4 linked regions of the Homo sapiens genome follow. The protein of the gene in region 1 purifies or fractionates together with the protein of each later gene. This does not show direct contact. Each region holds a gene or a part of one and is shown on either strand. Other genes may lie near its edges. The genes, in order: TMEM200A, PPP3CC, CAMK2G and PPP3CB.

Region 1 (8,199 bases):
TTATCAAGCAGATCCACTTGTTCCTGGACTTACGCTATGTTTTGTCTGCTGAGATCTGATATGTGCTCAAACACTCAGAAAACATCAGTGAGTGCTTATTGTGGTGTCATGCTAGCTACCCTTCCAGGCCTTTTCTATGGGCTTATAGGCTGATGGAGAGGGGACTGATAAATGTACCACAGATCACCTGGCAGCTGAGGTGGTCTGAGAGCAGCAGGGGACCAGTGCAGACTGGGAAGCAGCATAGTGGGTTGCAGAGGGACCTGGATGGGGAGTTGTCATCTTGACTGAGTCACTAATTAGGTGGCTGTGGGTAAGTGGCTAAGTTCCTCCACCTTTCTGCTCCTTGGTGCCCTTATCTGCAGAATGAGGGCTTTGGACTGACGATCTTTATGGTCTCTCTTTAAAATGCTGCAAGGCAAATTCTGGCAGAATTAAAGAGAGACAGAAGTCAGTGTGTGTGTGTAGGAGGGTGGTTTGTAGGGTTTTGGTTGAAGGAAGCCAGGCTGGAGGGTCTTGCTAGTTGTATTGAATGGGAAATGGCAAAGAGAAGTAAAAGATGTCTGGCCTGGGACATCTGACCTAACATTGATTATGTGAATTGAAAATACATAATAAAATAATAAAAATACCAGCTTTCACTTAGTACTGGGTGGTTTTCCATGAATTTTCACAAATGATGCAATAGATTTTTGTAACAACCCTCGGAAGTAATTAGAGCAGAAAGGTGATGAAGCTGGGACTAATACTGCAAAGCACATCTGCACCAGTATGCGCCACTGCCTTTCTGCAGGATTTGTAGAGATAGGAGAAGCTAAAGCTCACTTTGGAAACCCTGAGTAAACAGGAGAGAGACATAAGGTTAGGGTCAGATTTTAGGTGAGGTTGAATTTCTGCGTAAGAATTTAGGTTACATTCTGGAACACAGAAGTCTCCAATTACGAGCTCAAGACTTCCTGAAATGCCTTGAATTCTGATTATTGATGTTTAATCTTACTGCTCCTGTTCTGTGCCCACTCCTCCTCTAAGGTCCCCCTTTCCCCAGCAGGAATTCTGGGGCTTTGACTATCACAGAGTAATTGATATGACTCTTCCAAGAGCTTTTAGTGATGCTGGAAAAAGGAAATCCATGCATTTCATATAAAGGCGAGGATTCTGGGGCCACTGTATCATTAATTGATAGGATGTGTTCTGCAAGTTGTGCTTTGGAAACTTTGTCACCAGAGGTGAAATTCCACAGAAGGCATAGAAATCTAGAAAGGTGTAAGATGAGTGTCTGTACATTCCTTCCTGTAGAGCCCTAATCACTCTGCTCTGAGCATGAAGTGCACCAAGGGGGGACAAGTCTCTGCTTACCACCCAACTGTGTGTTCACCACCCCACTTTGTGTTCATGTAGAAGGGAGTTACTCAGGATTCATTTGCTTGCATGTGTGAATATTTAACTAGGTAAAGCAAAAAAGGACTTACTGGCTCATTGGACCAGAAAGTCCAAAGGTGGTCCTTGCTTCAATCATGGCTGGAACTCAGAGACTTACACAACTTTGTCGAGGTTCTTTCTCTCTCTCCCCATTTCTCAGTCCCACTTCTCTCTGGGTCAGCTGTATTCTGAGGCACTCTTTCTGGATATGGAGAAAGATGACTGTGGGTATTTCTAAACCTACATTCCTGGGCTTTTCATCTATGAGAAAAAGAGGTCCTTTCTCTTCCAGGTCCCATTTTTATAAATCTCCTTGAAGGGCTCTGATTGGCCCTGCTCAGTGGTAATTGAATTGGTCTCTGTGTCTAGCAGAGAGTGCTACTCTGATTGTATTGGACTAAATCATGTGCCCAACCCTGTGTATATGTGGTTCTGGTGCTGGGATGAGGAGGAGGAGGCTGGTAGGGCACTATGATAGGCAGTTCTGTCAAGATTACATAGAGTTGTGGTTCTCCCAAGAAAATAATGCTGCCAATCAAAAACAATAGTCTATTATTGGGAATAATTCCTTCCTTTTTTGGGACAGCCCTCTGCACAATGATCTGGAGTTTGCACATGGAAGCAACTCAGGTGCCCAAGACAATGCGTATCCCAAAAGTGGGACCTTTCTCCCAAGCAAGGTATAGCCCAGTGATGAAATAATGCCCTCATGTTTAAACTTTATTAAAAGGAGGATTGTTTCCAGAATGGGAAACACCCATTCTGGAATGAATGGGAAGCCACCATTTATTCATATCTATGTACTTCTAGCAAATATCCCTGTGCCTTATTTCCAGCCCAGAGATTTTGTTTCCAAAAGCCCTGCCCATCTAGTGATGATGAGATTGGATACCCCCTACTTTGGCCATTGTAGAGCCAGTGAAAGTTTGAACAGGGAGCTGAAGTGATTAACACAGAACTATTGTTTATGCAAATACATTGGGTTGTTGGAAATGCACAGAGGGGAGTGGCAGGCACAGATTAGGATTTTCATTTAGGAGGCATAAGATGATAGGTTTCCAATTAGAGTAATGGCAGCAAGAATTTGTGAGCAATATTATGAAGTTCTTATGAGGTTATATGTCAGGATGAAGGAGCATCTTTGTTGACAGAAGCATTTGTGGAATGAAATAGGCCAGGAGGGAGTAGACTAGGAAGACATCCTGGGCCAGTAGGTGAAATGGCTATGCGTGGTAGATAGGTTAATAGCAAATAGATTGTGTAGACAGGAGGCCTGTGGTCACCATGAGTCCTAGGGGCATGTATAGAACTGACATTTACCAAGGATCTACTTAGTATGGTAGGTTCATGTTGCATACTTTAAAGTTATTATATTAATGTTTATATAAAGTCAGGGAGGTAAATAACTTACTGAAGGTTATGAGGCCATTAAGCAGTACAGCTGGAATTCAAACCCTGGCAGTCGGACATCAAAGCCTTGCTTTAACCACTATGCAAAACTACCTCTCAACCTCAAAGTCAAATTCACTGTATCAGGCCAAACTGAAGGACCAGCTAAAGGTTGGCCCTTCTGATAGGAAATGAGAGTGCCAGAATTCCAGGTCAAATAGAAGGCACAGAACAGAGGTTATTAGGGTGAAAGTGGATAACATTCATGCTCAGAGCCAACCTGGACAAGAATGTCAAGGTAAGACATTCTTGGAAAGGAAAGAATATCACATGCATCCATTCTGGATTTAGGGTTTGGGGTATAGCAAGGAAAGGGGATGGGAAAATTATCAGGCAGTTGAACAGATGGGCAGATCAATAGAACAACTGGAGTTTGATTGTTGACCTGAGAACAGGAACTCTACCATCTGCCATGGCTTTAAATATCCTTCCTGGTGTAAGTTGATAAGAATATGGAATGGGCAGCTCCTCAGAGGGAGACAGGATTTTATTAGTTGTCAGGCACTATCAGGGAAGGAGCTAACGTTTGTAAGGCCATGCGCCTTAGATACGTAAGCTCACTAAATCTTCATTATAATTCCAGAAGGGTAAATATTATGCCTCCCCACCATCGCCACTTTTCTTGAGCCAGGAAATGGAGGCTCAGAAGGTTAAGTGACTTGCCCGAGCTCCTGGAGCCAGACTGGAAAGTGAAAGAGCTGGCATGGAACCCAGATCTGTTGGAATCCAGACCTCTTCCTGGATCTTCAGGGAGTCATCCTGGTGCTAGCAGGACAAGGTCAATATCAAGTCTGAGAGATGGAAATGGGGAAATCAGGAGGGGCATATGGTTGTGAAGGAAGACAGTAAGCTAACTTTTAGACATCTGAGTGTGAGATAAGAGCAGACCGTCTGAAGAGAATTGTCCAGCAGGATTATATCTGGCTTTGGCAGAAAACTTAATAATCTAGTAGGTTTTTTCCCCTCAGTACAGGATCTCTATCATTATGCAGGGTAGATACGTCAGCAAGTCAGATGTTTGGAAGGCTTAATTTAAGTCACTGATTTCAGTTCAAGAGAAGGGACCTCTGCCAGCTGCCATGGCCTGAATTTACCTTTATACATACAGATACTCTGCCCTGAAATGTGAAAAAATGAGAAGTAGATACATATAGAGAGGGAGAGAGGACACTCGCTAGCACATGCTGAATGTAGCAGGTTCATGAAACACTCTAGTTACAAAGGTGTGTACTTGAGGATGCTCTAAATAAAATGAGTTACTAATAGAATGTGAGTGACATCATATCGTTCCCCAACAAATACAAGGCCAAATTTGTATCTGCTTAGGTGTGTGACTGGATGTGTGCGCAATTGACTGTGTATGTATGTACAACAAGAGGAAGGGGAATGAGAAGGTGTATAAAAATAGAAGTATTTATGAGAACCTTGTAGCCTATTCGGAGAGGTAAAACAACCATGTGTAAAACTTTTAGAACAACTCAATAGAATAATATGTAAACAAATGGTTACAATGCTTTGAAATAAAGCTGGTAGAGATATGCAAAGAATATTAGAGGCCTGTGACACAAAAGCAATGGTGAATAGGAGTAGGCTCTTTCTTGTAAATAGTGAGCTAATCACAGAGGTGCTGATAGATTAGCAACTGCTGGGGAGAAAAAAAAGTATTTTCCTTTTGAGAATCAACATCTTTGGGCTTAAATGCAGGATGAATCCAAAGAATCTCAGTACTGTCTCTAAGCTGAGGTTGGCATAGGAGAGACACAAATTTTGTTTCCCTTGGCAAAGTAAGTCAGATCGGCTTAGTGAACATACATGTGCAAGTATTTGCAATAAAATGGAGTTAGCATTTCTGAAGAGATGTTGTTAGATTTTCTAATCATAAAGGCGATACACACTCCCAATAAAAACCTTAGAAAAATACATTAAGTATAAAAAGTCAGGGAGAAAATTTGCCTGTAATCCTATGACCCAAAGGCACTCATAACATTTTGGCATTTTCTTTCTCCTTATTTTTAATGATTTTTTCCATAATGCTTAATAGTGTATTACAACCTACTCTGTTTGCTTAATCTTATGTCTTAATATTTTCCAACTTCTAGACAAGCTTTATTAATGTCAGTATAATATTGGATTATGTGGACATATCATAATTTATTAACTATTCCCTTAAAATTGAACTTTTAGGCCATTTCCAAATATTTGATATTATAAATGGCACTTTGATGAATCTTTCTTCAAATTTCAGAATCTGTTTTTTGTGCATAAGGGTTATAAATGCATTTATATTCCATTTTATATATGTTTATCAGATTACTTCTTTTAAAAAGATTCGTGGAACGATAATTCCTGGGTCAAAGGGTATGAAAATTTCAGGCTCTTGATACTTAATGCCAAACTGATTTTCAAATAACTGAAGTTATGACTGACAGTGCATGGAACTACCCTTCACATGCTCTCACTAGGTGATTGTTTTTATTTTTAAATTTAAAAAAGCCACCATTTTGAAAAAAAGAATAGTTTATGCTAACTGCTGATTTTGTTCCTTTGTTACCCAAATCTCCCTTTTAGAATGTAGACTATGTAAGATATTGTGATTCATTTCACTTTTAAAAATTTACTTATGTTTCTGAACATGCAGATAGGGGCCCATGATAGAAAAAAGTAGCTTGTGAATGATTTTTTGAAAGCCAGTGTTATACATATCCTGTTTGGGGACTCTTCAGACTCTGCTGTGGAACAGCCCGTGAGAGAAGTTGATTGATGTAGGATGAGAGCCCCTTTTTGCAGAGCTAAACCCCTGACAGCCCCGCCTCTGTAGCCTTGGATATTAGGTCCTAGTAGTCATGGAGTGTTCTAACTGCACTTTTCACTGGGGCTGTAACCCAAGTGAGAGCAGGCCTGTAACTGTTTTGTCCATGGCTATGTCCCTAGCAGATGACCTTAGACAAAGTTTTGCTGGGAGGTGGGATCTGAAAATGCCTGAGTTTTTGTTTTTGTTTTTGTTTTTGTTTTTTTTTTTTCAGACGGAGTCTCGCTCTGTCACCAGTCAGGCTGGAGTGCAGTGGCATGATCTGAGCTCACTGCAATCTCCGCCTCTCAGGTTCAAGCGATTTTCCTCCCTCAACCTCCCGAGTAGCTGGGATTACAGGGGCACACCACCACGCCAGGCTAATTTTTTGTTGTTGTTATTTTTAGTAGAGATGGAGTTTCACCATGTTGGCCAGGCTGGTCTCGAACTCCTGACCTCAGGTAATCCACCCACCTCAGCCTCCCAAAGTACTGGGATTACAAGTGTGAGCAACCTCACCTGGCCATGAAAATGCTTGAGATTTTTCCCCTAGAAAACTTCTATAATGTTAGTCACTGATTGCCCAGAAACAAACTTCCTGAATTTTGAAACTTCTGGTTTTACTCTCTTTTCCAAAGAAAATTCAACCACATCACAGTACCTAGTTTTATGGCAATGAACTTTGACTTATTCCAGAAGAGGAATTTGGATCTTACACATACCTCTGCAGGGTATTTTATTGTCTAAAAACACTTACTGAGAGTAAAGGGAACTATTAAACTTACAGTAGCAGTCAATTTGAGGTGGTTTTTGAGTGCCAATTTCAATTTTTCCACAACTATTATATTCCTACAAAAATAATTTACAACTAAAATAAAAAATGTTTTGGTTTTCTTCTAAAAGTTGAAGGATATTATTCTATTGTAATAACTCTATTCTCCTTTATGGATCTCAGTCAGTAATTTTGAACAAAATTATTTTCGTTCATTTGTTCAACAAATGATTATTTAGAGAGATTCATTCAGCAGGTGCTGTTAAATTATATTATGACTCATTTTGTCAAATATGAGACAGATCTTCTTACACAACAATAACGCAGAACACTGTGTAGGAATTTATGCCTATACATTTATTTACTTACTTATAAGACACATAAAATCTCTTATAACATGCGTTAAAAAGTAAACTTGGCTCAGGAGAAGGTTTATTAATTAATAAAGGATTCATTAAATATTTGTGCTGCCAGCTGGGGATCCAGTAATGACCAAAACAAAAAGTTATGGAGGAGCTTACATTGTAAATGGAGGACACAAACAGGAAACATATAAATGAGCAAGGCAATTTCAGGCATTCAAAAAGTGCTGTAAGGGAAGTCAAGAAATCTGATGTCATAGAGAGTGCATGCGCTCATTTAGATCAGATGGTCAAGGAAGACCTCTCTGCATTTGAGGCATTTAAGCTACAACCTGCGAGAGAATGAGGAGCCAGCCTCACATATTTGGGGAGGGGGCATTGGAGTAGGTTTTATACTCAGTGCACTGGAAAGCCATTAGAAGGTTGCTCTTTTGGAGCATGATGTTTGAGGTCATTTATTAAAAATGAGTGTTGAGATGAAGAGTGCAAAGTATTACCTCACTGTAATGATGATATTGGTATTGGGAGCAAAAACAATGCTCACATTAGAGACTATATGTAGTTATGGTCAAGATATGTCATATATCACTATATGGCTGAAGACATTTCATATACAGTATGTCTCCCTACAAAGGGGTTTTAATATAAATATAACGTAAATATATTTAATAAATTTATAAATATAACTAAATATAAATAGCAATTTCAAAAGAATATATAGAGCTTAGTAAGTCCACCACAGAGTTTTTGTTATGTGAACTTGTATTCTTTAACTGAGCCTAGCATATTGACTTGTACATTATATACATTTGATAAATGTTGCGGAATTAACCATGTGGAATATTCTACTTGTAAGAAAAAAAATTAACCTCGGATATAAAATCACATTAATTATTTTCAAATTTATTTGTTATCACATTAAATAATTATCACATTCAATTAATTAATTATTTTTTGAGAGAGGGTCTCACTCTGTCACCCAGGCTGGAGTGCAGTGATGTGATTTTGGCTCACTGCAACCTCTGCCTCCTGGGTTCAAGCGATTCTTATGCTGGGACTCCACAAGTAGCCTCCCAAGTAGCTGGAACTACAGGCACACATCACCATGCCTGGCTAATTTTTGTATTTTTAGTAGAGATGAGGTTTCACCATGTTGGCCAGGCTGGGCTTGAACTCCTGATCTCACACAATCCATCTGTCCTTGGGACTCACAAAGTGCTGGGACTACAGGTGTGAGCCACTGCACCCAGCAAAATCACACAAAACAGTATTTTTATGAAAATACTAAGCCTTTTCTTTGAAAAGGAAAGAGATAATATGTTCCTTATACTCTAAGTATTAACAGTAATTTTAAATTGTATTCAAAATGCTAAAATTGAAATATTGAAAAATAAAAAATACACAAGTAT
Region 2 (7,747 bases), on another chromosome or scaffold:
GCATCACAAATGACACTAAGGAATGCCATAAATGTGCACGTTCCATGCTCTGATGTAATGTTCCCAGGCATGTACATTCACTGCAGAGCTGACCAATGACTATTATGACACGGCTCCTGCGATGAGGCTAGTTAAAATGGGAGCCTAAGTAGCCCCAAAATTTCCTTCACTAGTTGGTTGTGACTTGAAAATCAAACTAAGGGAAGATAATTCACACACTACATCTGAACACTTGCTTTTCGCATTCCAAAATATGCTAATGAAGGCTGAAATACCATTCAACCTAAAGAGTAACTGATATAGAAGACAGGAAATCCTCACTTATCCAATGTTCTTTAGCAAGACCTTCAATTCACAAGGGGACCATTGAACTCTTGTCAGTTTCTACTACCCCAGCTGGTTTCAGTAATACTGACAGGGAACAACAGAAGGATGATGGGAAGGCACATGCGAGAGCTGATGCCAACAGCCTAGAAGGGCATATATACATCTTGTTGTAGAAGGTGCTGCTGAGGGCATTTATCAAATATTTAGAAAGTGACTTCCTTTACAGAAGTCACCTGGGGTTCAAAAATGAAAGTAAAATAATCTGGCAATTGTGAAAGCTTTCTGAAAATCTTTCTCCTCCAAAGTCCTAAGGAAATTTAAACCAATCATGCCCATGGTCAGATGAACAGATTTTAAGTAAATCTAAGAACATCCCTTATTATTTTTTATTTTGTTTACTAGAACATATTTAAACGAACTGAGAGTCCAGAGAAAGTAGGTTATTATAGAAAACATTTCCCTTCGCCCTTAAAATCACTGGATTTGGGTTATTCACTTTGAAGTTCTACTATGATCCAGTTTCCCATCAAAAGGGAAGCACTTTTAGCCACTGAAATCTAAGAGGACTTTCTTCAATGGCACCCAGCAGAAAAGGAAAAAAATGAAAAGGAAAAAAATCTTCTTGCATTTGAAACGTTATTAGTCTTACATGAAAGACATTACCTTCCAAAAAACAATAATGAAGACTGACTAGTTCAAGTCAGAAACCCAGGTTTGAGGTTTCCAAGGCCCTTTTATTAGGGGAAGTTCCCCTTTATAGCACAAGACTTCACAAATGTGTTGACAACAATCAGATTCATTTCTTAAAATTATGGAGAAAAAAGGGAAAAACAAAACAGATGCACTTTTTATATATATTGAACATAAATTAAAAGAATTTATAAAACAGCCACCTTTTTACAGAATAAATGCAGACTGAATTATAAATGCACCTCCACGTTGAAGTTGTTTTGAGTTGCTTTTCATTTTCCAATAATAAATAAATAGAATTTGTTCTTGAGTTTTAGATCCACCTGAGCCACGGCAGGACTCTAAGTCATGAATGGGCTTTCTTCCCTTGGTCGCTCCTGTGCGCAGCATGTGAGTGTGCTGAGGTTACAGATTTCATTGGCCCACCAGCGTGTATGCTATCCTTTCGGGGTGGCATTCGCTCATTAATTCGGTCCAGACCTCGCGCTTCTTCAAAACTCCGGATCTTGTGCTGAAGCGAGAACCCTCTGATGGCTACAGAAAAACAGGAAGCAGGTGGAGAGAGCTCAATTAGGCAGCAAAGCAACAGGCTTAAAAAAAGTTTCTTAGCACACAGCAACCTCCTAGAGAAACACACAGAAAGGTGGCTATGGAGCACACGTCTAGTGAAAGTCATGGGCAATGTCTGACTGAATCAGTCTTGGCTGCAGCTACTGCTTCCTTAAAGCCCAAAGGGCAGCTGAAATTGTGAAAGTAATTTTCATAAAAGCTCTATATGCATAATCATGGTAGACATATACCTAACAAAAAGCTAACAAGTACTTACTGGGCCCCAGTACCTTTAAGAAAGAGTGTCTTATGCACCAGAAACATACTCAATGCTAGAACAAAGGCAACACTAGAATAATTGAACAAGTTAAACCCAGGGTAGTTGCTTTTCGCACAAAGGCCACATAGACCACAAAAAAAAGTAACAAAAGAGCTAATCTTTTCGTTTAGGACAGCTTTCTATCTTGCACAACCAGGAGCTGTACATAAGTTAAAAACTTAAAAATAGCTTCTACATATTTTCCTTCCGATTCAACTTTTATAACACCAAGTTAAGGCATTCGCGTTTTGAACCATCTTACCTAATAAAACAATTACAAGTATAATACAAGTTTATCAGTTCCAATGGTTTTCATAGAAACAAAGTTAATTTAACTTGCCTACCTTAGGGCAACCTCAGAAATGAATTGAACTAAATTCCAGTCTACTTCTGCCTCTGCTCTTGAAATCTTTTAGAATCGCTGAAGAGGCTGACCTATTTGGCTCTCTTGAGAATCAAATGGATGTCTCTTGTACATGGAAGGGATACAGAAGTAAACCACTTGACCTCTCATGACCAGTTGCTTAAGCTTCTGCCGTTGCATTAAAGCTGATAGAGCCCAGAAAAAAAACTGTAGCTGTGGTGAAGGTTATTTAAAATTAATGCAAAGATAGGACACAAAGGAAACACCTGCTTCGTTAACATGCCTAGAAACAACTATACCTTTTCTCACTGTTATAGTTCTGGTGATGCAATAATAAAATATTTGAAATGTTGATAAAGCTTCGAAAAACCAGTACACAGACACATGGATCACATCTATCAGAGTAATATGGCCATACCTTCCCGGGCCTCTACCGCTTCTACTGTGGCTGTAAGAGGGCAGGAGCAGTAGCATGCAAAAACGAAGACAGAAAAAGAGTGAGTAAACCAACAGCACTGATGGCAGCACAGCCATCCCAGGGGCCCGTTTTTTAGCCTATCCCCATCCATAATGAAAGTCAACTAGTTAGAGAAGCGAGAAGATTATTGCGAGAGACTCAATTGGGGTGGGAGGAATATGGGGTGGGGGAGAGTTTCTAATATTTTTAACATTTCAGGTGCCATGGAACATTGCTCTTTTCATTTTAGGTAGCCAACTGCTACTTTATATCTTGATATCCACGTATCGAAACAACATGTAGAATCAAATAGTTTGACATCACAACAATCCTTAGTTTGTAAAATATCTCAGGTGATATTAAATGAGCTACTGCTGGGTCCTATTCAAAAAGCTTATTTACAACTACATCTTACTGCTCTCAAGTGACTTATTTGGAGTCCAACTGCCCTATTAATTACTTCATTTAAAAAAAAAAGAGTGGCCTTTGAACAGCAGACTGGCATTTGGAAGGAGAGAAAAATAGGTTCCATGTGAAGGGTTATTTCTTGTCCAGGAGTGGAGTACAAAGCTAACAAAAGCATAGAACTATTGAATTCCTAATGCAAATGTGTGTACCCATCTGCTATAAAAATATAGCAGAGGCTAATGTTTCCAATCCATATGGCTTCCATACAGTGTTCAAGAGAGTTGGCCAGTAACTAAGAAAGCCCTCTTCTTTCTTAGCAATGGAAAAGGAAGCAACTTAAAAATTAGTACCAACAGGTAAACTTCCTTGCATCTCCTTTCTCAGACAGTAAAAACGCTAATATATGAAAAGGTACAGGGTGCCACAAGAAAGATCCTATTAGGAGAACCCTGTCAGTTACTCCAGTACCAATTTGCCAAAAGAAGGCAGTGAAGAATAATGAGCAGTAACAGTTTGCTGCTATTCCCAAGGCTTTATATATCAATATGAGAAGAGAAACTGAAAGAACTACATTAACTACCTAATGGAATGTGAAAAATGGATAACTGAAATCTACTTATGAAGTGCTTTCATTTGTCAACCATAGGCAGGCATGTATTAAATCACTGTCACACCCTCTCTAATCTCCTTAAGTAGAACAAATACCCTTGACAAGAAAGCTACAGTGCCTTCTCACAGCACATCACTGATGTAACTGTTAGGAAGTGGGAGAACAAAGCATTGCTGAAACTCTACACTGAGTGTTGGTCTAATTAGAGCTTAAAAGCTACACGGTAAAATGTGTATGATATTACCTTGTTTGGGGCCCTCCCAGAATTGCTATTCACATTGGGTATAAAGATAGCAGCCTGCAGTAAGGGCCATTATAAGAAACAGTCATATCAAATGACCCGAACTTTTGTTTTCCTTTTTAACATCTTAACTGAAATAGAATTCATATACCACAAAACTCACTTGTTTAAAGTATACAAGTCAATGGTTTTAATATAGTAGAGCTGTGCAACCATCACCACAATCTGTGCTTAGAATATTTTCATTGCCCCAATGAGAAATCCCCCACTTATTAGCACTCACTTCCCATTTCCTTCCCTCACCTCTTCCCCTTAATCCTGGTTGAACACGAATCTACTTTCTCTCTAGATTGGTCTGTTCTGGACATTTCAAATGAGTGGCATCATATAATATGTGGTCTGTAGTGACTGACTTCTTTCACTTAGCATAATGTTTTCAAGGTTCAGTCATGTTGACATGTATACCTGCATTTAATTCCTTTTTATGGCTGAATAGTATTCCATTGCGTTTACCACATTTTGTTTATCCAGTTTATGGACAATTGCTTTTTTCTGCTTTTTGGCTATTATGTTGAATGCCATTTATGAACATTTGTGTACAAGTTTTTGCGAGGACATATTTTCATTTCTTTGTGGGGTATGTAGCTATGACTGGAATTGCTGAGTAATAAGTCAATTCTATGTTTAATCATTTGAAGACCTGTCAGAATGTTTTCCAAAGCAGCTGTACCATTTTACATTTCCACCAGCAGTGTTAAGAAGGTCCCAATTTCTCCACATTCTCATCAACACTTCTTATTAACTGCTGTCTTTTCACAGCCATCCTACTGACTGTGAAGTGGTATCCCATTGTGGTTTTGATTAGCATTTTCTGAATGTCTAATGATGTCAAACATCATTTCATGTGCCATTTGTATGTCTTCATGGGAAAAATGTCAATTCAATTCTTTACCCATTTTTAACTGGGTTGTCTTCTTATTCAGTTGTAAGAGTATATTTTCTAGATACCAATCTCTTAGGAGATATATGATTTGAAAACATTTTCAACCATTCTGTGGGATGTCTTTTCATTTTCTTGATAGTACCATTTGCAGTACAGAGTTTTTAATTTTGATGTAGTCCAATTTATAACTGATCTGTTTTAATCTGATGGTCTTTGTGAATCTTGTCCTGTCCTTGGCTTTCCCCACTATTTTGGCTACTGGGATGCTTAGAGTCAAATTTGTGGCTATTGGCTTTATTTTTATTTACCTTTGTGCTTCAATTTCCAAGCATATTTATTTTACTCCACTATGTTTCATGTATACTGTAACTCACGCCAATCCCTCTTAGATCAAGGTGAGACATACATGAATGTATGTTACATGGCCATATGGGATACTGTTGGTTGAAAGCTCTCCAAGTTAAGTTATATGAACAATAAAAGGTCTTTTTTAGTTAATGCTCCAGTTAGCCAATGAGCTGGTGGAACTGAGACTCCAATGTGAAAATAACAAAATAAACTCACTTCCTGTGAATCAATAAGAATAAGAAACTCTAAAAAGTTGGCTCCAACTTTACCTTTGTTCTCACACATTACTGAAGATTTCTATCAACTTTGGAAGTATCAATCAATGGTCCTATCTTGATTAAAACACTCATATTCAACTCATACTTTGGGGCTGAGCCCAAAAGGTGACCAAGAATTAGAAACAAATTTCCAAATAACATAGCTATATAATTCTGTTGCTCAGCCCTGATTTGCAGATTTGCTTTCTCAAGGTTTAGACAAAGTTGGTTTCAATTAAAACAATTTTGTGGATCAGCAAATTTTCATAATGTTTACCTAAGGATGCTATAGGACATTCCTTTTTTTCTCTTAACTCATGTTACTGCCTATTACTCTATCTTTGTTGTCAGAGTTGCTCTCGGAATATCTCAGATGACTAATTACCAAGCAAAGCAATGGTGGGAACATATTCTGCTCACAAAAAACTGCACATTTATTTGAGAAAAATATTCAATCGGAAATAGTTTACTGATACTTTCTGTGAAACTAAAGGAACTAGGAAAATAAACTATACTTCCAAAGAGAAAATGTTCAGACTTCCTTCTAAATAGCTGAACTCTAATATCTCAGTATTCTATTTGAAAGAGAAGGAGGAATTCAATCTTATAAAAAGAAAAAAGGGCTGGGCACGGTGGCTCACGCCTGTAATCCTAGCACTTTGGGAGGCTGAGGCGGGCATATTGCCTGACCTCAGGAGTTCCAGACCAGCCTGGGCAACATGGTGAAACCCCATCTCTACTAAAATATAAAAAATTATCCGGGCATGGCGGTGTACGCCTGTAGTTCCAACTACTTGGGAGGCTGAGGCAGGAGAATTGCTTGAACCTGGGAGGCGGAGATTGCAGTGAGGCAAGATCGTGCCACTGCACTCCAGCGTGGGCAACAGACCAAGACTCTGTCTCCAAGAAAAGAAAAAAAATGGGTTTGTCCCTGTTAGTCAATAGCAATGAAATTTCTACAAAAGAAAAAGGACTCCTATAAATGGCAGGATGGCCAGGCACAGTGGCACATGCCTGTAGTCCCAGCCACTCGAGTAGCTGAGGCAGGGGGATTGCTGGAGCCCAGCAACCGGGCGCTGCCATGAGCTATGACAGTACCTAGCCATTACATTCTAGCCTGGGCAACTCTGTCTCTTGGGAAAAAAAAAGAAAAAGAAAAAAGGCCAGATGAACGATGAGGTGGGAAAAAAACTAAATAGAAACAATTCAACAAAACAAGGGGAGCAAAAAAAGCAGTTAAACTTTAGTTTAAGATATTAATGCTTCAATACCAATTTTCATACCTAGTGTTAGTCACCCAGTAATATGATCTCCTGTCTCTTCCCCTTGCATGTTTATTCTCACGAACATCAACCTTTTCATTCCGGGATTCCAGAAAGCCCTTTCCTAAGAAGTCAGCTCCTGGGTAAATTTCAGAATTGGTACTCTGATTGAAGAGGTGATTTTGGCACTGGAATAGAATATGGCTGCAGGGAAAGAGGCAAACTCCCTCTCTGATTGAGAAACTGCAACCCCCTCAAACTGTTTTCTTTAAGGTACAAAATATACACGAGGCACAGCAGGTGCACAAATCTGAAGTGTACAGCTCAACACATTCTTACATAAGTATACGCATGTCTAACTACCACCATGATAATGATACAGAACATTCCTAACACTCTAGATGTTCCCTGTGCCCTTCTGGGACAATATTCTCCCACCAGAGGAAGTGACATTCTGACTTTATTATCACTGATTAGTCCAATGGTTCTTAAATATTATATAAATCAGACAGTCTGTGCTCTTTTATGTCTGGCTTTTGCAGTTTTCTGTAATGTCTATGAGATTCAACCATGTTGTAGCATGTGTCCATAATGTGTTATTTTTTATTGCTGAGTATTATTCCATTGTATAAATAGAATACAGTTTATTTATTTATATTTCGGAATACAATTTATTTATGTAGTCTGCTACTGATGGACATCTGGGTTGTTTCCAGCTTTGAGCTATTATGAATAAAGCTACAGTGAACATTCCCATGCATAACCTTTGGTGAACACATCCAGTTTCTCTTGGATATACACCAGGTGTGGAACTGCTGGGTTACAGGGTAGACATATGTTTAGCTTTACTGCCCAGTAGTTTTCTAAAGCGCTTGAATCAATTTACAAGCCCTTTAGCAACATACCTAGTACTAGTTCTCCACAAACACACCAATACTTGGTATTGTCAGACTCTTTTTTTTTTTTTTGGAG
Region 3 (8,199 bases), on another chromosome or scaffold:
TGTTTATCTCCTTCCTTAAGTCTCTTACTAGCTAATGGTTACAGTCCCACAACAGCAACAGCACTAAAAATAAGGGCACTCTGCTTTACCAGTGACTTTGAGTGGAGAGAAGATACACAGACTCAGGCTCCCAGCTCCTCAAAGGAGCTGCCCAGCATCCAGAGGGTCCTTGTTAGCCTCTTAGTTCAGCCTTAACTCCAAGGAGCTGAGCCCTGTGTTCCCGGCAAGGCCCAGGTCTTCTCTGAACCCCAGGACTATACCTTGATCCTCATTCTGATTCTAAGCTGTGGAGTATGGCAATTAACAACACATCGGTTTTGAAGTCAGACAGCCCTGGATTGAGCCCAACACTGCCACATCCAGCAAGCTATTAAACCCACCCGAGCTTCATTCATTCCTTCAAGAAATATTTATCGTGGCTGGGCGCGGTGGGTCACGCCTGTAATCCCAGTCCAGTACTTTGGGAGGCCAAGGTGGGTGGATCACTTGAGGTCAGGAGTTCAAGACCAGCCTGGCCAACATGGCAAAACCCCATCTCTACTAAAAATACAAAATTTAGCCAAATGTGCTCACTAGAACCCAGGAGGTGGAGGCTGCAGTGAGCCAAGATTGGGCCACTACACTCCAGCTTGGGGTGACAGAGCAAGTCAAAAAAAAAAAAGAAATATTTACTGAGGCCTACTATGTGACAGACAGTATTCAAGATGCTAGGAAGACAGTGGCGAACAAAACAGACAAAAATCCCTGCCCTCATGGAGCTGACACTCTAGTGGGTTGTGTATGGGGGAGGGATGGACAGTAAGAAAACTCAACAGCACGTTAGATGTCACGGCAAGTGCTGCGTAGAAAAAGCAGAGAAAGTGGGGAGTGCAGATTTGAGTAGGGCAGTCCAAGAAAGCCTCAGTAAGGAGGTGACATTTGATTAGGACCCAAAGTAGGTGAGACAGTGAGCCAGGCACATTATCTTGGGAAAGAGGTTCCTCACTTCTTTTGTTTGTTTTTTTTGCTTTTTTTTGAGATGGAGTCTTACTCTGTTGCCCAGGCTGGAGTGCAGTGGCATGATCTCGGCTCACTGCAAGCTCCGCCTCCCAGGTTCACGCCCTTCTCCTGCCTCAGCCTCCCGAGTAGCTGGGACTGCAGGCGCCCATCACCATGCCCGGCTAATTTTTTTGTATTTTTCAGTAGAGACGGGGTTTCACTGTGTTAGCCAGGATGGTCTCGATCTCCTGACCTTATGATCCGCCTGCCTCGGCCTCCCAAAGTGCTGGGATTACAGGCGTGAGCCACGGCACCCGGCCAAGAGGTTCCTCACTTCTAAAATAGAGACAGCAAGATCTGAGGTTTAACTGAGGTGGTACAGGTCAAGAGTTTTGCATAAGGTCTGGCATATAGCTCCTTTCCAAGGGCCCAGTGAGAAGCTTGACAGGGTCTCCTGGGCTGGGCTTGTGGCCACAGCTATCACCAGAGACACTGTGAATGGGACCCACTGTCCCCTCAGCCCAGGCAGATGCAGGGTCTGCAACACAGCAACTAAGCCCTCCTGCCTGGCTTCTGGGCTCCCCACATGGTCCTCCATTGCAGTCCTGGAGGTGGAGTGTCCCTCCCTGTTTTGGCGGGGCCCACCTGTGTCTACAGTCTGCAGGTGATGGGCAGCAACAGGGGCTCCTCAGAGAGAGGGGAACGCCGCAGGAAGTGCCACTGTCCGCTTCCCTCCTCTTCCTCGCAGCCGTGGCACCCTGCCATCCACAAGCTCTCCTCAATGAACAGAGCAGTTTCTACCTGCCCCGCTCTCCCCGTTCCTGCTGCCACATACTGCCCGGCCACCACCCAGCCTCTCCAGCTGTTGTCTCCTGTCTCTTCCCCTGACACTTCCTGTCCTGTAGTCACATCCAGGGCTGGCCCACGGCTGCAAAAAAGCAGAGGGTCCATCCCAGCAGCAGTGGCAGCAGAGGGGTTCCAGGATGGAGTAGTGGTTTCTAGAGCATCTTTCCCAAAAGCAAGGGCATCCCAGCTGGACGCAGCATCTCCAACCCCAAAAAGGGCGAGGCCACTGAATGGGCTTGGTCCACAGTGGGAGGGCCCTGGCTCGGCATCTCAAGGTGCTGCAAAGGTGTCTCCCCTTGAGACACCCCTCCTTCCAGTAACCACTAGGGAGAGGCTCAGACCTTCCAAGGTGGACCCTCCTCCACGCACCTTTCTACCAGGCTCATCCCCGCCCCTCCCACAGCCCAGCCCCCCCCTTCCTGTTTGACAACTGCCACTTCCCGCTTTTGCACAGGGCCACTTCCTGCCTGCCTGTGTGCTACTGCCATGGAGAGACCCACCCCTGCCGGCCTTCAGCCCAGCTCCAACCACAGCCCTCTGCAGGTTTTCCCCATCATTAGCAGAGGTGGCAACAGGAGCAGAAAGCAGAAGCAGCTCCAGCCTTTCCCCAGCAGCCTGCCTAGACCAGAGTGGTCTGAGCCCAGGCCAGAGCCAGGCCCTGGGAAACAAGGATCCTAGAAACCCAACCTCTCCCGCCTTCTGCCCAAGTGCTTCAGGACTTGGTCCAAGGTGCCACGATTTCACAGGAAGGGCAGCAAGAAGTGACCAGATGCACCAGGGGAGGCAGAAAAGAGGAAGCAGATAGGGAGGTGATAGCTTGCAGCCAAGGGGTGCACCAAGCCTGCCCCTGAACCACCTCCCCCTCTGGCCTGAAGACAGAAGCCTACTCCAATGCCCTTTCCTTCCTCTGCCAGGTCAGGGGGCCAGGGAGGGCTGGCCACAGATTCTCCATGGCCCTCTCAGGGATGGGCCTGCTTGACTTAGTGACATTTTCCTAAAAAAAAAACACAAATGCCAGCACTAGCTTCAAATAAGATCCTGCTGCCACGTAAACATACAATCCTCTGTACGTGGGAAAGGATGCACATTCCTACTCTGACTGAGGACTCTCCCAAGTTCCAATCTCAAAGACATTCTTAACTTTGTAAAGGGTATTTTGCAGGTCTGTGCCTATGACCCTAAACATGGATGTGAGAAACTTCCTGCAACCCCACTGATTTCAGGGCTCCATGGGAGGCGGCCTCACTTGCTGCCCTCCTGAGTGCCTTTCATCTTCTTCCCAAGCAGCAGAGGCCGCCGTCTGGTCCCCTTGGCACTCTGAGGAGCAGAAACAAGGACATCGCAGGGATTTGATGTCATAATCCACCTTCCCCAGCTGCTTATGCACAGCCCTGGGCCTGGGACACTGACCAGTGGGAATCCCAAGCCACGATCCCACCGACCTCACCCTGACACTGTGATGCCACATCCCTTCCTCTTTGAATCTCACTCTAAAGATGCAAAGAGTCTCCAATTAAAAGCAAAGTCCATCCGACACACAAGAGCAGGACCATGGTTTCTAATGCCCTCACACATGTACACCTGGTGACTAGCTGGGGGCTGTGATACAGAGGGACGGGGCCTGAAATGGTCCCATGTGAACCCCCAAGGCTCTGTGCATGTACCCAGCATCCTCCCCTTATCTTCAACCCTCACTCAAGCAGTTTTAACTTGGTGACACAAAGACCTGAGCCCCACTTTGGCCTCTGGATCTCAAGGCAAGGGAAGCGAGAGGCTCCAAGAAATGCCCTATAGCGAAAAGGCCCTCAATCAGCTTTGACAGAGAAAATCCCCAAGGGGTCACTAGCAAGCCCCAAGAAGGCAAGGCTCTGCCTGGGGGCACTCTGGCTGCTCTCAAGGGCCAGAAAAGGGTCAGCCGTCTGTTCTCCATGCCCCCCGGCAGGGCTCCCGGTGCCTGCAGCCTTTGCCCACTGTTTTGGTGACATTTCCTTCATGGTAACCAGCCCCAAGTAAAACATCCCAGGAAGCAGCCCCTAAAAATAGCTCCTCCCAGGGCAGCAGCAAGCAGGGGGGAAGGGAAAGAAAGGGAGGAGAAAAGAGGGGAGCAGATGGGAAGCTGCGGCTGCTGCTGATAGGGCCCAGGAAGCGGAGATGGTGTTGGGGAGGAGTGGCTGGAAATCTCCCCACCGCACAGCCCAGAGAGGTGGGTACAGACGGGAATGGGGCCTCAGCCAGCAACGAGGAGGGATTTGCTCCACCAGGCTTGGAGCTTGGGGCCTAGATGGAGAGGTGTGAGGTGATATGCCAAGATTCATCACAGGAACAAAGTATCCAGAACCTGTGTTTTAAAGAAAGGCGCCAAGGAGTGGGTGGAGGCCACACGGCCTGAGGACGCTGGGTCTGAGCCCTGGCAAAGTCATGGGCACCTGCAGCACAAAACCAAAAAAGAAAAAAAAGACCCCAGACAAAGCTTTTGTGCTTTGATTTCCCCAGCGGTCCTGCGGCAGATCTGTCTGGCCATGGGTAGGTGACAAAGGGGCTCTGCAGAGAGGCATTCAAGAGGTGCAAAGTGCCCATCTCCTCCTGTCACCACCCTTTTGGCACCCATGGGATCAGGCCCTTGTTGGTCTGCCAAAGCTGTTCAGAGAGCAGCAAGCATACAGATGGGAGCAGGAATGGTCACACCCAGCCTCCCCTTCCCTATCTCCAGTCTCAGCAGAGAATGGGGTCAGCCACTCACCTCTAGGGTTTCAGCACAGCTTCGAACAAGGGTATGGTGACAAGGGACCAGAGGAAGCAGCAGGAAGAAGGCAGGGGCCTCCCTGACAGGACAGGGCAACCTTCCCACCTCCATCCCCACACCATGATGCAGCACCCCAAGTCACTCTAGGAAGACAGGTGGGAGGGGAGGGGGACAGGCCAGTGTTGTGTGTGCTAAGGCCCACAGCTCAACGTGACCGCGTGACAAAAGCCGCCTGGCAGAAGCCTTTGCACAGAGGGACCTGCAGTCGGCTTCCATCCCTTCAGGAGAGAAAGTAGAGGCGCTCCATCACTGATATGCAGGATGCCCATTTCTCTGTTTACAGAAATTGGCCTGTTTTATCCTCAGGAGGAAAGCATGGTTTCGCACACAGCCTCCTTAAATGCTTCCTCGAGGCCTGTGTTCCAGTGCTGTGTGGATTTCTCTTCCTTCTCCCACTCCCTGCATTACTGCTTCCCCCTCCCTTCTCTTTCCCTCACTTCACCCAGATCCTTAACAGGAAAGTCTCACTTGGAGATACCACAGGGGACACAAATGTCATGGGGGCTACTCAGGCCAACACTAAGGGGGCGGGGACTCTCAGCTGGCACCATCCAGGGGATCCCATTTCAGTCCCCAGGGCCAGCTGGACCCAGAAAGGGACAGCCTTTACCCTTCTGGTGGCCAACATGCCACAACCCGAGCCACCCAGCTTGCCGCAGCCTCAGACACAGACACCCCAATCCCGAGGCCCAGAACGAGGCCCCTAATCACAGAACAGCCCATGTGCACAGATGGCCACATAGTGGCAGACACACAATCTGGAGAAGGATGGGCCAAGGTGTGTCTGTTGAATTCCAGAGGGCATGGCAAGAGCAACTGTTGTTGCAGATTTTAGGTGGCATCTCTTAAAGAGTGGCTCATGCCTCACCTGCATGAAATTCACTGGAGCATGTGTTAAAAATGCAGATTCTGCAGCTCCACCCTAGACCTCCTAAAGCAGAATCTCTGTGGCTAAAGCCCAGAAGTCTGTATTTTTTAAACTAGTACTCAGGGTGATCCTTACGCACACTAAAATTGAAAATCACTACCTGGAAGAGATCCCAACAGTGGCCCTATAGTGCCATTTAGTGACAGGGAAGGAGGAATCATCAGCTAAATGTCTGCCTACATCTCCCACTCTGCCTTATGCCCCAAGCACAGGTCTTTATCCTCATCTGTCCTCTCTTCCAGCAGCCGTATCAGGTCTGCAGCTTGGCTCCCTGGATCAGAAAGGGAGGACCCAAGTCTGTAGCAGGGTACAAGGGCTCTGGCAACTTGACTCTGAGTTTCCTAGGAGCCAAAGCCAAAAGGCAACCATGATTGGTTACATAGTCCTCTTGACCCATTCATTTAATGTGTATGTGGCTGGCATACGTCAGGCACTTCGCTAGGGCCTGCCCATGCAGAAGTATAGAAACACATAAGGACCCTTCCCTCACCTCTCAGGTCCTCACAAAGAGGAAAGCTTTTGCTTACATTTAGCTTCAAAAGAAATTTCTTCACACGGAATGTACAGATTAAATAAATATGTTAAAGTATTATAACAGATTTCAAAACACTGTTTCCGGTAGCATCTCTTAGTAAGGCCAAGGGCATTACCCCAGTATCTATCTTGGTAAAAGCAACTGGAATCCAGATAAATGGTACATATACAGAAGTTTCTTGTGATGCTGATTGTTTTAGGGATAAATCCTAAACGACGTAGAAGAAAGGACCATTTGCCCTTCAACTGTAGTAATATGGGGGAAATGCTTTGGATATAAGCAAAGAGAGCAGGATATAAAATGTTATGCTCCACGAGGTGAAAATCTGTATGCATATGAATAAAGATAAGAAGGGAATATGAAGATTTAAAAATAAAAAAAGACATAAGGGCTCAGGCTCCTTGAGGGGGGTGCTCTTAAATCTTAAAATAACGACTTATCATTGCCATCACCTGGCCCACTAGCTCCTGCATCCAAGCCTATTTTAAATGCCTCCTTCGGCCTAGTGGAGCTAAGCTTGGAACCATGGGCTCCCTTAAGAGCCCAGCTCCACTCCTATCACGGTTCTGAAGCAAACGGAGTGACGTTATGTGACTTTCAGTGACTTTATGTAGACAGGCCCGCAGACAAAGACAGTGCTCAACGCATATCCGCATGAACTCCCCACCTTGCAACCTAGCCGCCAATGTGGGCCTCTGAGGCCACAGTGACAAGACACAACAGCCCAAAAGAAGGCTTCCTGTCTCGATTGGACCCCCCCAGAAGAACAGGTGATCCCTCTCCCTGACTCCTAGCCACCTCACCAGGGATGCCAAGGAGAAACAGCTCTATACCCTCTTTTTATCTTTTCAGTTTGTAGCCCAGAGAATCACAAACAAGAAAGACAGGAGGCAGGAAGACCCAGTGAACACAGCAAGCCCCTTCAGACCTTCACAGATGACCCTGGTGGGCCCACGACATTCCCAGACACAGAAATCCAACACCTGCGGAGACCTAGGCAGACAGCGATGAGTGAAACCCAGCTCCAGTGGCTGCACCTTTATAAAATATATAGTGTAAACTGAGAGTCTGCAGGGAAGCCATGGCCCTCACTCCCTAACCCCATGGGAACCAGCCCATGGCTACCCTGGCCCAGATCTCTCCAGGAGTTCACATCTCCCATGCCCACACCTATAGTCCAGCCCCACCTTGTTCCCTCCATCTCCAAGACAGCCCCTTTCCACTTTCCCACCTCCACACAGTACTGGCTGGCACTTACACATTCTGACCCCTCTGGCTGGCATCTGTGCCTATCATCTGTGCCTCTGTCCCAAAGTCAACCTGGCACATGAGGCCACACAACAGAGCCCAGTCTTGGCATATCCATCTTGGGAGAGGGGGAGTTGCTGTCTGAAGCATATACTTTTACACAAGAATCCTCTTCTTGAGGGGAAAAAAAAAAAAATCAACGAGAAATCAAGTCTCATCCAGTTTGGCCAGGGAAAGATATCCATTGGGAAAGATGGGACAAGGTTAAAAGGAGGTGAGGAAGGGAAAGGGAGGCTATCACACAGGTCATGGAAATTTACGCAGGTAGGGAAGGAGTAGGAAATGAAAGCCCCAGTCAGGCAGCTGCAGGAAGTCACCACATCACCTATCCTCACATCCCAGAATTCGGCTCCCAGCCATCTCTCCTTCTCTTACCCATGGGTCAGAGGACACTGGTGAGATGAAGAGAGCAAAGCATTGCATCATCAACTGGAGACACCAGATGCCAGCCCTGTTTCTGATGCACCAGGGCTCTGCTGTGTGGGCAAGAGAGGTATCCAGCCTCAAGCCATTGTTCCTGCCTGCACCTTCCATCCTTGGCCAGAGGATGTCTGCCAGAGAGCCCAGCCCCTGTTGTCCCCCCCACCCCCACTCCAGGGTATCTGACTGCCCACATATCTCTATGGCAACCATCCTCAGACTCAAGGTACCCAGAGAGAAAGAAAACAAACAAGTCCAACTTTATAGGCAATGTACACGAACAGCAAGAGATGGAGCTGGATGGGAGTCAGCAATTAGTGCCCTACTAGAGGGATGGAGAGAGAGTCCCCAGTCAGGGAGTGGACACGGCCCTGCTAAACA
Region 4 (8,199 bases), on another chromosome or scaffold:
TATGGAAGATCATATAATATTAGATCCTCTAGAACAGAGGTTCTTAAAGGAGGGCCAATAAGTGTGAAGGTTGCAAATTCATTTCAGAACTATGACCATCCTGAAAATGTTGTGAGTACATACATTTATACATGAATTTTTCTGAAGCAAAAGTCCATAACTTTTATCAGATTCTCAAAGGGATTCTATATTAAGAAATTAATAAACGTTTTTGGCAGTGGCTCACACCTGTAATCCCAGCACTTTAGGAAGTTGAGGCAAACAGAGCCCTTGAGGCCAGGAGTTTGAGACCAGCCTGGCCAACATGGTGAAACCCCGTCTCTACTAAATATACAAAAATTAGCCAGGTGTGGTACAGCATGCCTGTAATCCCACTACTCAGGAGGCTGAGGCATGAGAATCACTTAAACCCGGGGGATGGACGTTGCAGTGAGCTGAGATTGTGCCTGGGCAATAGAATGAGACTGCATTCCAGCCTGGGCAACTGAATGAGACTGTGCCTCAAAAAAAAAAAAAAAATTAATAAATGTTTTTATTTGTACTTTTAAAATGTGACTCTTTATCTTTTAGAAATATATTCTAAAGTATTTATAGATAGAAAAGAGTTGAGATTTGTTTCAAAATAATTGAGGTATGAGGTGGGGAGTACTGGATGGGGACATAAATGATACAAGATTGGCTATGATTTGATAATTGTTGAAGATGAATAATTGGTATATAGGAAATTCATATTATTCACTCTACCTTGGTGTATGTTGAAAATTTCCCAATGTAAGTTATTTTACTTCTTTAGAGACAGGGTTTTGCTATATTGTCTAGGCTGGGGTGCAGTGGCTATTCAGATGTTTGATTGTTGTACAGTGTATTCTCAAACTCCTGGGCTCAAGTGATCCTCCTGCCTTAGCCTCCCTAGCAGCTGGGACTACAGGCCAATGTAGGAATATTTTTAGTGAAACAGAAAAGGGGTTCTTGGCTAGGTGCAGTGGCTCACACCTATAATCTCAGTGCTTTACAAGCCCAAGGCAGGAGGATTACATAAGCCCAGGAGTTCAAGGCTGCTGTGGGCTATGATGGCACCACTGCACTCTAGTCTGTGTGACAGAGCGAGACTCTGTCTCTATAAAAAAAAATAGTGGGGGTTTTAGCTCCCAAAAGGGTAAGGAAACACTGCTTTCGCCTAATTTTGGGATTAAATCAGCCTTTCAGGAAGCCTCTGGCTTAGGTTAGTTCCTGCTTCTCAGGAACTAGACCCAGAGTCCAGCTGGCTTCTTCGAAGTAAAACAAATGTCACTTGCTGCTTTTCACACCAAAAGAAAATGCTCATTACCATCAAGAAGTAGTCAGGCTATCTAAACAGCCATCATGTATTAAAATAGCAAAATATGCAAAGAGTTTGAGAAGATTTTCTTACTGTGCTCAACACTGGCTAGAATTCTATTTGCATGTAATGTTAAAATCTGAGCTTTACATTTTTAGAGAGATGTGAATAATTTAGAGAAGATCTAAAGAAAAACAACAAAAATGGTCAAAAAGTTTGAATATTTCTTTGTTTATAAAAGATGATTTAGAGTGGCAATGGAAAAACTAAAGATCACTTAGTACCAGACCTCAAATACAGGAATACTGATAAAAGCCTACTGTTCTCCATCTTCACTTGTAAGGGATCCACAGAATTCATCTTAAATTATCTCATCTCTCAAAAGGAGTTGGGCTAAATGACTGTTATATCCACTTATGAGCTCTAAAACCCTATGATGCCCTGGTTTTTGACAGGTGCATTAGTTGAGAAAAACCTATTATCTCTATTTCTTTCCTTGTTTAAATACTCATAGCATAAATATTTAGATTAGATATAACGAAATATTTCCTTATGTGGGACTATCAGAGAATCAAATTAGAATCTATGAAATGTCCATTTTCCTCCTACCTTATCTTCCTGGCCCCTCCATCCTTCCCATATTACATTAAAACAGTTGAGTTGCAGTCTAGCCTGAAGGCAGGAGAGTGAGCAGGATGAATTATTTAATTCATCTGATGATGCTATGATTGAACTATTTCTCATACACCAAAGATAGAAGGTTGTAAGTGTAATGCATCCCTTGCACCTAAGCCCTTAACTGGCCCCCTTCTCAAATGCTAAAGGGTAATTCTATCTCCGTATTAACATTGGACCTACTGAGTAAATGAAGAACACCAAATGCAATCTGCAGAAAACCTGTTTAACATACACAGTTTAAGTATTAATTCTGAATTTCAGAACTACAAATTGCCTTGGCAGAAGTGACGTATCTCATACAGAAAGGAACATTTTGTAATATGGAAGAGGTGAGAAAAAATAGAGGGGGATACTGAACAAAATGTTTTATAATCATGTCTGTACTCTCATAATGTCATTTTCCACATATGGAAACTGAGGCATTTTCTTATGAAAAAAATTAACTTAAAATGGAAAAGAACATGATAGGTAACAAAATCCTAAGAATTCTATAGAACTACAAATGAAACACAGAAACAGAATTTCTTAAATAGCATTTATTTTCTCTCAAAAAGCCTATTATGTACTAACAAGTGTTCCTCTAAATTAGAAAGGCATCACTACTAAAATTTTATACATATTTTTTATATAAGAGAAGGAATATTGGGTTACAATCTGAATTTCTCTTTATGATTTCTCTTAAAGTATAGAACAGCTATTAAAATGACTAATATTGCTAAAATGAAGGCTACTAAATTTCCCCAAGAATTTCGGTGGAATGCCCAAAAATGGTGTTAAGATATGCAGAAGGGCCCATTTCAAGCAAAGCAATCTCTCCACCCCTTCATAAAAGATTTAAGCTAAAGAAAAAAAAAAAAAGAAAATCCAACAGCTGAAGACATTGGGCTATTTATAAATCTTCTCCCAGTCCCCCAGACAGCCTCACATGGGGGCTGTAAACAGCTAACTAAAATATCTTTGAGACTCTTATGTCCACACCCACTGACACAAGGAGAGCTGTAACCACAGTGAAACTAGACTTTGGTTTCCTTTAGCAAGTATGTGCCTATGATAGTAAACTGGAGTAAATGTAACAGTAATAAAACAAATTTTTTTTAAAAATAAAAATTATACCTTTTTCTCCAACAAACGGTAAAGACCACGTGAAGACATCCATAAAATTAGGCAACCAGTAAGGATGTGGAGAACAGTTAAACTGTCGAATATTCATCACATTATTTTCATACTTTAATACAGCAGCTGCAAGATAAGTTGAACATCAATAACTTAATAGATAAGTAACTATTTGTCATTAGCCTTAAAAATATAAAATACATAAAAGCAGAAAAATATTAAGAGGAAGGGAGATCGGGGGTGAGTGGAATCAGGGCTGGTAGAGGGAGGAAGGAACTAATTTTTAATAATAACATAGGTTTTGTTTTTAACACTGTTATGTAGAACTATAACTATAGTCAGGTCTTCACATTACTAATGAAATTTCCAGATTCTTTCCAGAATGTTTGTTTTACTTTATAATCCAATGATGAACATACATTTTTACTAAATCCAAAATTGTGAAAACTCAGTTTTTAGAGGAAACACAGAATGGCAATGAGCAATTTTCTAGGTTTTTAAAGTTCAAACAAATTGAGAATTTAAGATCTTTCTAGCTTCAGGCAACCTGAAAAGGATAGCTGAATGGTAATAAAGCAAACAAAAAAATCCCACCCATTTGGAACATTTTACTTATAAATGTATGAATGTATTTGTTTCATTTAATATGGAAAATCAGACAAAATTACTACAAAGAAATATTTTACTTTGTTTAGAAAAAAAATCCTACTAAAACACCAAAAGAGAATATTATAACCAAACAATCCAGAGATAACATTTTCATCTCAAATGCAGGTATCTAATGTTTCAATATGTTGATATAATTAAAATCTTAAATGACCTACATAGATTTCAGTTACTGGTTATATTACTGTATAGAACACTGGGTTAGAAGGGCTGGATTCTCATCTAAACTATAGCACATACTAGCTGTGCAATGCTTGGTAAATTATTCAACTAATGTGTTTCTCATTTATAAAACAGGACTAATATGTCTACCCTGCCTACCACAGAAGTTTAAGATCAGACAATGCATTTCACATGAAAATACATAAAAGTATAAAATGTCTTGTAGATATAATTTTATGGTTACTTTTTTTTCATTTTAATGAAAAGCACTGAAATGCAGATGTTAAATTCCAACATTTGTGATTGTGGCTAATAGAGAATCAAAAGTAATCCTGCTACATGTTACTGTTTACTAACTTAATAAGTATATGTTTGTTTCCCATATGAAATTCCCATCTGAAATAAAAGTATTTTAAATTATATGTTTTGACAATCAGTTCAAAGTGGGAAAAAAGAGTATTTTAAATTAGTCTCAAAAATTATGAGCTGATACCAAGCTTTCAGATCTTTTGTAAGGGATAAAAGAGAGAAAAATCTAGAAAATTGCCTTATGGATAGAATGAAAAATTACAAACATACCCATACAACGTAAACACTCAAACCATTAACACTATTTATGTACAGACTCAGGACTACAAAGAGACATCTGATTTTTGATAAGACAGTCAATGGTTTGAGCCTCTTTTCTAAGTGCTAAAAAAAATCCATCCCTTAACCTCCTGAGTCAAACCAACAAAGGACAATCAGTAAGGCAGTACTCAACTGGACACTGAACACTAGCTCCCTTAATATTAACAAGAGGAAGTCACAGTTGAGGAATTAGAGCACTGGTAGAAAGTTAAATTTAACACTTGGTTCTGTTTTTGAGAATGGAATCAGGGCAGGGGCGCAGTGGCTCAGGCCTATAATCGCAGCACTTTGGGAGGCTGAGGCAGGCAGATCACTTGAAGTCAGGAGTTCAAGACAAGCCTGGTGAACATGGTGAAACCTCATTCTATAAAAATATAAAAATTAGCTGGGCGAGGTGGCGGGTGCCTATGATCCCAGCTATTAGGGAGGGCTGAGGCAAGAGAATTGCTTGAACCCAGGATGCAGATGTAGCAGTCGGCCGAGACTGCACCACTGCATTCCAGCCTGGGCAACAGAGCGAGACCCTGTCTAGAGAGAGAAAGAATGGAATCAAAACTTAGATATGTTTCTTCTCAAAAATGAAGTCATATTTCATAAGATATCTATAGTGTAAGTTCTTGTAGCATATTCTGTACCCAAGTTATCCAGCATGCTACTGTTTGGTCTCAGGCAAGTGTTTTAATCTTTTAACCATCACCTCTCATCATCCAAAAAAACTTCCTCTGTTCCTCTTTTGAACTTACACCATGACCCTTATTTAGCAATGACCTCATTCTCTCTCTAAATGTCCTTTTTAAAGTCTTTAACCTTCTGTTCTTTCCTCTTGGCACATCCACTCCAGTCTGATCCTGAAGCTATGGCATAGTCAACTGAATTCCAGACATGTCAAGACAGAAGAGAAGCTGGCCTCTTAATATCATCTTCCAAAGATGTAAACTACATAAACATACCCAATCTCATCTTCAATGTCCTTGGCACACACTTAACTAGATTAAGACCCTTTGGCACTTTCTGTCAATAAACTGTATTCAAAATAAAATGAAATCCAATTACTATAGACAGGTCAAATTTTCAGGGAAGGTGGGGAAATGAAAATCTCTGGAACGGAAGGCAAAGGAAAAAAGCAGTAAAAATAAAGAGAAGAATGTATCCCTCAAATGAGATGAAACTGAATTAATTAAAAAAAAGCTCAAATACAAATCTTCATGGGGCAGTGATAAGACTGTGGAGGTAAAAGAAGGAAATAAGAAAGGGAAAGAGAACCTAGATCAGTGAACATAAAACAAGAAACATGATAAACTAAACAAGTAGACAGTGCAAATAAAATCATCAAAGCAGCAGCAGCTTTATACAAATAAGAAAACATCCTCAATAAGGGAAAAGATTTAAGAAAGGGGAGTTTGAGAAAATCATGTTTGGTTTTGCTTGATGCACTTAACTCAGAGCACGTTTTACAAAATGGCTTTTCCAAGAGACAAGTTGTGGAATGGGGTTACATATTACTTAGTTTCACATTTTGGATTTTTATTTATTGTTCTCTCCCCTCCATCTTACAGTTATTTATAAAGAAATCTGGATACTAATAGTTTCAAACAACACCCCTTTTTTATTATATTAAAAAAAGTCAATTAAAATACTAAGTTGTTTAACAATTTTTTTTATCAACAATATCTTACCTTTATTATTGTAGACATCTAAGTAATTAGGTGCCGAAAAAATTGTTATTAATGAAGGGAACCCTGTAGTTTGACTTTTTCTGTACATTCTATAGCTGCAAAACAAATAGCTTAATATGCATCGTAAAGCATCAATCATGGTTACTAAGTTTGATTTATATTTTAGGTGTTAATTTGGGTCAGGGAAACAGAATTCTTACCCTGCATCTTGAGCTTCATGAGCTCTAATAATCGATAACAAATTATTGTTTTGCAAAAATTCACACACTGCTGGATAGCTGTGGGGGAAAAAGAGTAAATTAAGTAAAATAATGGCTTTTCTGTATGAAGCATATGCTATGTTAACAACTAAAATGTGATTAATCTTGGATATTTTTCCTTACTTATAAAAATAAGAACATCCTCGAACTGTATTGTGACTAAAATGTTCCTGTGATTTTTCATTTCCAAAATCTTCAGAAGGATCGGACCATAACAAGTCACACATTGGTCCAAATGCAGGTGGCTCTTTGAATCTATCTAACTGTGAAAGAAAGAAAAGAAAGAACAGAAGTAACTCATCAAAAAGTAAGGATAAAATGTGCATAGGAAAACGATACCAACTTTGAATACAGTTCATACTATATTATTGTGAATAAACAGAAGTTATTTCCTTAAGATATCAGTATACTAATTTTTACTATTACCTAATCTTGGCAGTGAAGTGAAGTTTGAAACTTCTGCTCTACTCAACAATGTACTATAAATAGAAATCAATCTCGGAAGTAAAATATATACTTACTCTCCTAATATCATCCAGTGTGTGTATTTCTGGTGAAAGTCCACCATGAACACAAAGAAACTGTTGGTTTAAAAGTGCAGCAAGAGGCAAACTATCAAAAGCTTCCATACAAGCTTCATAGACTCTTTCCGAATACTTAATTTTACCTAGAAAAACAAAAAACTAATTGAAAATTACATTACTGGTGGTGGTGTGACCATTTTAAAAACATATATATTAGATTTTTATTTCTTGTTCTCTCCCCTCCTTTATATCTTATAGCTATTTATAATGAAATTGAGATAGTTACAGTTTCAACTGTAGTAATAGCCCAGACAGACAGACAGACAGATGGCAAGAAAATTATAGACAGTAAACAGCAAAGTGGTGGCCAGGGCTTCAGAGTGAGTGAAGGGGTGACTATAAAAAGGTAGCAAGAGAGAACTTATGGCATGATAAAACTTTTCTGTATCATGATAGTGGTAGTGGGCAACTCTATGCAGTGTCAAAAGTCACAGAAGTAAATACCACAGAGAATAAATCTTACTGCACACAATTTTTTTAAGGAAAGCATCTTCCCCTATAAGAATCAACAAAAATATGCAAAGTTATCTGTCTTATGAAGACAAAATATTTGCTCTCTCTAAAATTATTCTCGATGATGTTATGTCTTATGAAGCAAAATATTTGCTCTCTAAAATTATTTTGGATGACAGAAAAGTCATCACGTATTGTTAAAAATAAGTCAGTCAAATCTCTAAAAACAGGCCAGGCACGGTGGCTCACGCCTGTAATCCCAGCACTTTGACAGGCCAAAGCAGGCAGATCGCTTGAGGCCAGGAGTTTGAGACCAGTCTGGCCAACATGGCAGAACACTGTCTCTACTAAAAATACAAAAATTAGCCAGGCATGCTGGTGTGCACCTGTAATCCCAGAGACTCAATGGGTGAGGAACAAGAATCACTTGAACCCAGGAGGTGGAGGCTGCAGTGGGCCGAGATCGTGCCACTTGCACTCCAGCCTGGGCGACAGAGCAAGACTCTGTCTCAAAAAAAAAAAAAAAAGAAAGAAATCTCTTAAAAACAGCTCAACCCTTCACCTTTATCGGCCAAATAAGGCAAAATTAGAACTGTACTTGAGGTTAAAATCATTTTAATACTTGCTTTATTTTATTCTAAGAGTCAATGACTACTTTA

Evidence for each region.
Region 2: the proteins of TMEM200A (region 1) and PPP3CC purify together in Homo sapiens (co-immunoprecipitation; 3 studies listed by BioGRID and IntAct, with this or other methods). This does not show direct contact.
Region 3: the proteins of TMEM200A (region 1) and CAMK2G purify together in Homo sapiens (co-immunoprecipitation; 2 studies listed by BioGRID and IntAct, with this or other methods). This does not show direct contact.
Region 4: the proteins of TMEM200A (region 1) and PPP3CB purify together in Homo sapiens (co-immunoprecipitation; 3 studies listed by BioGRID and IntAct, with this or other methods). This does not show direct contact.

Annotation. Positions count from the first base shown.
Region 1 is NC_000006.12:130,368,543-130,376,741, forward strand, and holds part of TMEM200A (transmembrane protein 200A), read left to right. Parts: intron 1-8,199.
Region 2 is NC_000008.11:22,534,419-22,542,165, reverse strand, and holds the end of PPP3CC (serine/threonine-protein phosphatase 2B catalytic subunit gamma isoform), read right to left. Parts: intron 2,698-7,747; coding exon 2,668-2,697; intron 2,435-2,667; coding exon of another isoform or gene 2,298-2,434; exon of another isoform or gene 2,230-2,297; intron 1,552-2,229; coding exon 1,364-1,551; 3' UTR 1,041-1,363; downstream 1-1,040. UniProt on the Homo sapiens protein: Calcium-dependent, calmodulin-stimulated protein phosphatase which plays an essential role in the transduction of intracellular Ca(2+)-mediated signals. Dephosphorylates and activates transcription factor NFATC1.
Region 3 is NC_000010.11:73,863,646-73,871,844, forward strand, and holds part of CAMK2G (calcium/calmodulin-dependent protein kinase type II subunit gamma), read right to left. Parts: intron 1-8,199.
Region 4 is NC_000010.11:73,464,444-73,472,642, forward strand, and holds part of PPP3CB (serine/threonine-protein phosphatase 2B catalytic subunit beta isoform), read right to left. Parts: intron 7,171-8,199; coding exon 7,025-7,170; intron 6,767-7,024; coding exon 6,627-6,766; intron 6,522-6,626; coding exon 6,444-6,521; intron 6,339-6,443; coding exon 6,244-6,338; intron 3,236-6,243; coding exon 3,110-3,235; intron 1-3,109. UniProt on the Homo sapiens protein: Calcium-dependent, calmodulin-stimulated protein phosphatase which plays an essential role in the transduction of intracellular Ca(2+)-mediated signals.